Linked DNA regions of Homo sapiens. The protein of the gene in region 2 purifies or fractionates together with the protein of the main gene of each other region. This does not show direct contact. Each region holds a gene or a part of one and is shown on either strand. Other genes may lie near its edges.

Region 1 (3,652 bases), on a different chromosome or scaffold from region 2:
GGGTTCACACGATTCTTGTGCCTCGGCCTCCTGAGTAGCTGGGATTACAGGCGCCTGCCCTCATGCCCGGCTAATTTTTGTGTTTTCAGTAGAGACAGCGTTTCACCATGTTGGCCAGGCTGGACTCAAACTCCTGACCTCAAGTGATCCACCTGCCTCAGCCTCGCAAAGTGCTGGAATTAGAAGTGTGAGCCAGCACCCGGCCCCCTTTGCTTTTTGAAATCCACTCCTGTGTTTCGAGCTCAACTCCACCTCTCTGAAGAATAACCTTCAGTATTTATTTCTAAAAGAGCCTTTGCACAGTGAGCCTCAAGCTTCGGCAGAAGTGGAGCCAGTCACACGGCTCTCAAGTGCTCATCAGACAGAGACCTCAGCCCACGTCGGCCTCCCCTCAGCCCACGTCGGCCTCCCCACAGCCCACGTCGGCCTCCCCTCAGCCCACGTCGGCCTCCCCACAGCCCACGTCGGCCTCCCCTCAGCCCACGTCGGCCTCCCCTCAGCCACAGGTTTGCTGCGAGCTGGTCACCAGTCCACTGCATGCTCCTCTCAGGGAAGTCTTTTTGTTCTGGTTGCATCTAAGATGTTTACTTTTTAATGTTTTGAAAATTTCCAATGATGTATCTAGCTGTGGATGTTTTTAAACTCTGGACTTCTTGGAGTTTCCTGTATTTCATGAACTCTGGAAAGTCCTCAGTCTTCCCTTTCTCCTTTCTTGCTCTCTTCTCCTTCTGGAACTTGTACTGGACATGGGCTGGCATCGCCTCCTCCCTGGGCCGCACATCTCTTCCCAACACTGCTCCTCTCTTCAGCTGAGTTAGTGCTGCTTCTCGTGCTGCTTCTCCTGCTGCTGACTGATTTAACGTTAATGACTATGTTTTTCATTTCTAGAGGTTTTCATTCTGTTTCTTTTTCAAACATAAACTGTCTGCTCATGGTTTTTTGTATTTATAATTGACATAATAATTGCACATATCATGGGCATACAGTCTTGACTAGTCTTAAGATTGCTTCCTTTTACATCTTTATCAATTTTAACATACATTTGTTTTCTATTATCTTCACATTTTGAGAATGAAGAGTCTTATTTTCTCTCCCTTGAAATGAAATTTACTCCTTTTAAAAGCTAATTACCCATATACACACCTACTATATGGCCACAAACTCTTTTTTAAAAAAGCTAATTACAAGAAATCCTGTAACATCAGAAATAAGGCAAGTAAAATAATCTGATTTAATTATTTTAAAAAATTACCCCCCCCCCCTTTTTTTTGAGACAGAGTCTCACTCTGTCACCCAGGCTGGAGTGCAGTGGCGCGATCTCGACCCACTGCAACCTCCACCTCCCAGGCTCAAGCAATTCTCCTGCCTCCGCCTCCTGAGTAGCTGGGATTACAGGCATGTGCCCATCACACCCAGCTAATTTTTGTTATTTTTAGTAGAGACAGGGTTTTGCCATGTTGGCCAGGCTGGTCTCAAACTCCTGACCTCAAGTGATCCACCAACCTCGGCCTCCCAAAGTGCTGGGATTACAGGAGTGAGGCACCATGCCCAACTTAACCTCTACTTTTAAGTTAAAAAGTTAGGCTGGTCGCAGTGGCTCTCTCCTGTAATGCCAGCACTTTGGGAGGCCAAGGCAGATGGATCGCTTGGGCCCAGGAGTTTGAGACCAGCCTGGGCAACATGGTGAAACACTGTCTCTACAAAAATTACAAAACTCAGCCAGGCATGGTGGCGTGCACCTGTAGTCCCAGCTACTCAGGAGGCTGAGGTGGGAAGATTGCTTGAGCCAGGGAGGTGAAGGCTGCAGTGAGTCAAGATTGCGCCACTGCACTCCAGTTCAGGCGAAAGAGCAAGACCCTAAATAAATAAAATCAATTTCAGAATCTTTTTTTTCTCCTGCTGGTCCCTTGATCTTGGGTTTTCTTTTTTTCTGCTTAACTTCAGAATCTTAAATGTTGGCTGCAATAAGCTAAGTGATTCTCCTGGAAAACCTTTAGGATTCATCCAAGAAACGCTAAGAAGCCCTGTACTTACCTGTACTTAACCTCATGGTAAACCTGCTCTTTTACTAAACGGGATGTGAACACGACCTCTGTTCTAAGCTTGTTTTAGAAGATACAATGCAGAAAACACAGAGCTCTATTTGAGGCCCTGAGCCTTTCTTACCCTGATTCAATTTAACTCCTTCACATTCCTGCAGCTTTCCTGCAAAATATGGAATAATTTTCTTACATTTTCATACCAAGAAGAGCTTATGATTTATCTCAGATGCATGAAGGTTTAACTCCTAACCAGGCCCTCTCACAGTGCCAGCAGCATCTCCTGGGCCCATTACAAGGGCCCAGCCACCTCCCCACCCTGACAGCCTGTGCTGCAGCTGGTGTCAGCCACACCTTGCTCCTCTCCCACTCTGCACCCTGCAAAGATTTCCCATCCTCAGCAGCTTCAGACTACTTGGTGTCGAGGCAGGTAAAAACCAAGGTGACCCCAAGAAAATGGCTGCTCCCCCAAAGGAGGCAGAAGGAGGAAGTGAAGATGAGGAAATGTCAGAAGATGAAGAAGATGACAGCTGTGGAGAAGAGACTGTCACACCTCAGGAGAAAGGCAAGAAGGCTGCTGCAACCCCAGCCAAGAAGGTGACAGTTTCCCGAACAAAAAAGGCTGCAGGTGCCACACCCACCAAGAAAGCAACTGTCACTCCAGGCAAAGCAGTCGCCACACCTGCCAAGAAGGGAGCCATAGCAGGCAAAGCACTGGCAGCAGCTCCTGGCAAGAAGGGACACCCCAGCCAAGGGGGCAAAGAACGGCAAGAACGCCAAGAAGGAAGACAGCGATGAGGAGGAGGATGACTCTGAACCAGCAGTGATGAAGGCAGCAGCGGGTGCCCCTGCCTCAGGGGATGAGGACGAGGACGATGAGGACGATGCTGAGGAAGATGGCTCTGAAGCAGCACCTATGGAAACAACACCAGCCAAAGGAAAGAAAGCTTCTACAAATGCTGTTCCTGGGAAAGCCAAGAGGATGGCTGGGAATGAAGATGAAGAGGATGATGAGGACAAGGACGAGGGTGACGATGATGAAGAGGATGAAGTGATGAAGACGACAAAGAGGAGGAAGGGTCTGTCAAAGAAGCACCTGGAAAATGAAGGAAATGACCAAACAGCAGCTTCTGAAGCCAAGAAACACAAAGTGGAGAGTGAGAAGCACAGAACCAACTGTGCCTTTTTTTTTTTTTTAAGACAGGGTCTCACTCTCTCGCCCAGGTTGGACTGCAGTGGCGCAATCTTGGCTCACTGCAACCTTCACCTGCCAGGCTCAAGTGATTCTCCTGCTTCAGCCTCCTGAGTAGCTGGGATTACAGGCGTGTACCACTACCACCCGGCTAATTTTTGTATTTTTAGTAGAGACGGGGTTTCACCATGTTGGCCAGGCTGGAACGTCTTTCAATCTTTGTTGGAAACCTGAACTTTAACAAGTCTGCTCCTGAGTTAAAAACTAGTATCCATGGGCCAGGCCTGGTGGCTCACGCCTGTAATCCCAGCACTTTGGGAGGCTGAGGTGGACAGATCACAAGGTCAGGAGTTTGAGACCAGCCTGGCCAACATAATGAAACCCTGTCTCTACTAAAAATACAAAAATTAGCCGGGCGTAG
Region 2 (3,652 bases):
GAAATATTTTAATGTAATGAAAATGTCAGGCTTCCCTAAATTCCAAAATAGACAATAGGAAAAATATATTAAGTTCTAAGCATCACTGTTAAAATTCCCAGTGACTAAGTTGTTGCCTTTGGAAAGATAGGTGATGTAAAATTTCAAGGAAATAAATTTAAATCGAATATGACATTCCTTTGCGGACCACTGACCAACCTGAAGCAAGTGTTGAGGACTCGCCATCTTTCTCTCAATTTTTCTCAGTCCTTTTATTTTTGTCCCTTCTTTTTGGTTTTCTCAATATTTTCTGTTTCTTCGTTGTCTACTGTTAACTTTAAAATTTTTTTTCTTTTGTGCTAACTGCTAAGACATAATTTACATGTTTTAAAAACAGCACAGATCACAAATGTTTGGCTTGAAGAATTTTGACAAATAAATTGAGTGTGTGTGTATACGCACACGCGTATTTCTTAGCTGGCAACTGGGGTCTAGAGAAGTTGCCAGTTTCCAACTTCTGAAGTATAGTCATGCACCACAAAATGATGTTTTGGTCAATAACTGACTGCATATACAATGGTGGTCCCATAAGATTATAATACTCTTATTTTTACTGTACCTTTTCAATGTTTAGGTATGTTTAGATACACAAGTACTCACCATTGTGTTACAACTGCTTGTAGTATCAATACAGTGACATACGGTACAAGTTTGTAGCTTAGGAGCAGTAGGCTATACCATATAGCCTAGGTGTATAGCAGGCTATATCACCCAGATTTATGTACACCATGATGTTGCCACAAGGACAAAATTTCTGTGTTGTGCCTAACAACACATTTCTCAGAATGTATCCCTGTCATTAAATGAAACATGACTGTATTTTCTTAAGCTTATAACCTCAAATCAATAAGTATTTGTTGAGCACCTCTTAGCAACTCTCCATCATGGTAAGCACTGAGTTGGATTCAAAATTATATGGCTACTTTAAGTTACTGGAAGAAAAAGGACCAGCCCAATTACCTGATTCCTCCCACTATCACCCAAGTTGTTTAACAGAATACTAGATTCAGAGTAAGCCCTTAATATTTAGCAAGTATAAGAATGAAGACTCTGACATCATGAATTAATAAAATTTTATTGAAAGTCTGCAATGTAACCTCTCTGAAGAATTTACAAATGCAATAATTGCCTTTTGTCAGATAATGTTTACTTGACAGTTACTTTTCTTAGTGTTACAGTTTTGTTTGTTTGAGGGAGATTTTCCAGATTGGTTTTTGAAAGGGTAATTTAATCACCTTTCACATTTTAAAACTGCCAAAAGGTATATAGTGACATGTCTCTTACTCAAGTCCTTCTCTGTCTGGACTTAGTTTTCTTTCTTCAAGTAACCAATCTATATCCTTACAGAGGTATGTCTAATATCTTCTGTAAGAATTAAAGAAAGAGGTAAGAAACATGAAAAGATGGCTCGCCAGTCAGGACAGATTTATTTAGAGAAAACAAACGTGAGAGGTGCCTTCTGGCCAAGTTAGGTCAGAGGCACACTCACTTACAAACTAAGAGTTTTTAAAGATTCAGGGTGGGAGAGTTTATCAGAGGCTTGGACTGCTTCTCTGACTCTTTGTTGTGCTTATCTGGGAGGGAGAGTTGTGTGTCTGTTCCCATACATCTTTCTGCAGCTGCAGGCCTATCAGTCTGCATGTAGCTTTTCTATCCTAGTGCACCTGAAGGGAAAGGAATGTGCTTATTAAGGCCCACTATTTTACTGGGGCCCATTGTATGAGGGTGAAGTTTGGCAGTTGCTCAAGAGACTTTCCCCCCACCTCCCTTTGTGCCCAGCTGTCTTATCTGTATGTTATTGTCTGTTCTTTCTGGCTGCTTACAATTAGAAGAGAAGTAATTTCCTTGAAATGCATGAGGCTAGAAAGGGAGCTGGAATTTAAAGTGGTGGTGTTTGTCCCAGATGACAGTGCTCCTGCTCTATCATCTTCTTTTTTTTATACGAATGGCAGCATGCCATAAACACTGTTCTGCACCTTGCTTTTTTTCTTTTTACAGTATATCTTAGCGATCATGACATCATTAAATAAAAACCATCCCCATTATTTCATACCGTAATTGATTTAGCCAGTTCCGTATTGATATTTAAATTATTTCTACTCTGTCCCTATTAAAAACAATGCTATAGTGAATAACATTGTACATAAGTCAGTATGCATTTGTGCACATAAATTGGGAGAACTAATTCCCAAATGTGAGATTGTTGTGTCAGAGAGGTATGTACACTTGTAATTCTGACAGGTTTTGTCAGCCTGCTTTCCATAAGAGATAGTACTAATTTATGCTCCTGCCAGCAATGTATGAGAGTATGCCCCCCTACACTTCCTTCAACCTTTCAATCTTTGCGATTCTGATAAGTGAAAATGGAATCCCAGTATAGTTTTTAGTGTACATTTTACCTGTTTTAAGTAAGACTGAGCATATCTCCACATGTTTGAGAGTCATTTCTATTTCCGTTTCTGTGAACATCCTTTGCCCATTTTTTTCCTGTTGGTTACTGATCTTTTTCTTAATGATTTGCTGAGATATATACATAGGGATAATTGCTCTTTTTTGGTCCTATGAGGCGCAAATATTTTTTCCTCAAGTTTCCACGTGTCTTTTGAGTTTGCTTTTGGTGGTTTTTGCCATTCAGTTTTTTTCCAATGTCAAATTTATAAGTTTTTATATAATGCCTTTTGGATTGCAGGTCATGATTAGAAAGGAAAATTTTGAGGTGGGCACACTGTATTACTCTGAACAGCCTTAGCAAACTTCAAAAAGGAATGGAGCCAAGAACTGCACGGGAGCCCAAGGCAGGGAAGTAGGTAACTTAGCTGAGTAAGGACCTCACAATATAGCTCTACTATAGTCACTTTGACATGGATTTTGAGTACCGTTATATCAGCCAGGGTTCTTATTCCAAACGATAGAAACTGACTAGTTAACTTAAGCAGAAAAGGAAAGATATCAGCTAGCTCAGTGAATCTAAGCAAAGCCTGCATAATAAGGGTCAGAAAATAGAAATGACCCAGGGAACCCATATCCAAGATCCTGCACAAGCCCAAACCTGGTTAGGGCTGCTACTGCCAGTGACATCAGTGCCCCTGGAAACTGGATCCTGACAGCAGAATGAATTAACTTTCCCCACTTTATTGTGTCACTTGCCTCAGATCTATTAAGTCAGTTGCCTCAGATTCAAACTCTTGGGTAGAAGCATTCAGTTGCCCAGACAATCACGAAAATTAAAGACTAATGAAGCTGAAATAATAATTTAACCAAAGACTGGTGAGGAACTAGCTGATGTAAAGTACTTTATTTAGAGTTCTGGTTATATTTCCCTGTCATGTAAAAGTTTCAACTTTAGTAAAGATGATGATCTGCCAAGAAAAAGTTTCATAGTTTGTTTACTCTAAAACTGTGGGATACTTGAGTGATGAATTTATCAGTGCCTTTTGTCATGAGTTCAATTCTAATACATGCAGAGATAAGATTATTTCAGATCTATTACAACATTTTTATTCTGTTGTAGTAATAGTAATGATGCATTTAGCATAATTTTATTCAGTATTTTTTTAGCATCTACAGTTTCTATGGAAACAGATTTAACGCTGACCCCAATTCTCTGAGCTTT

Evidence for each region. The genes of interacting proteins can lie anywhere in the genome.
Region 1: the proteins of SREK1IP1 (region 2) and RABL6 purify together in Homo sapiens (affinity purification with mass spectrometry; one large-scale study listed by BioGRID and IntAct). This does not show direct contact.

The regions. Positions count from the first base shown.
Region 1 is NC_000009.12:136,814,335-136,817,986, reverse strand, and holds part of RABL6 (rab-like protein 6), read right to left. Parts: intron 3,505-3,652; exon of another isoform or gene 3,437-3,504; intron 3,218-3,436; exon of another isoform or gene 2,456-3,217; intron 1-2,455. UniProt on the Homo sapiens protein: May enhance cellular proliferation. May reduce growth inhibitory activity of CDKN2A.
Region 2 is NC_000005.10:64,758,557-64,762,208, reverse strand, and holds part of SREK1IP1 (protein SREK1IP1), read left to right. Parts: intron 1-2,728; exon of another isoform or gene 2,729-3,652. UniProt on the Homo sapiens protein: Possible splicing regulator involved in the control of cellular survival.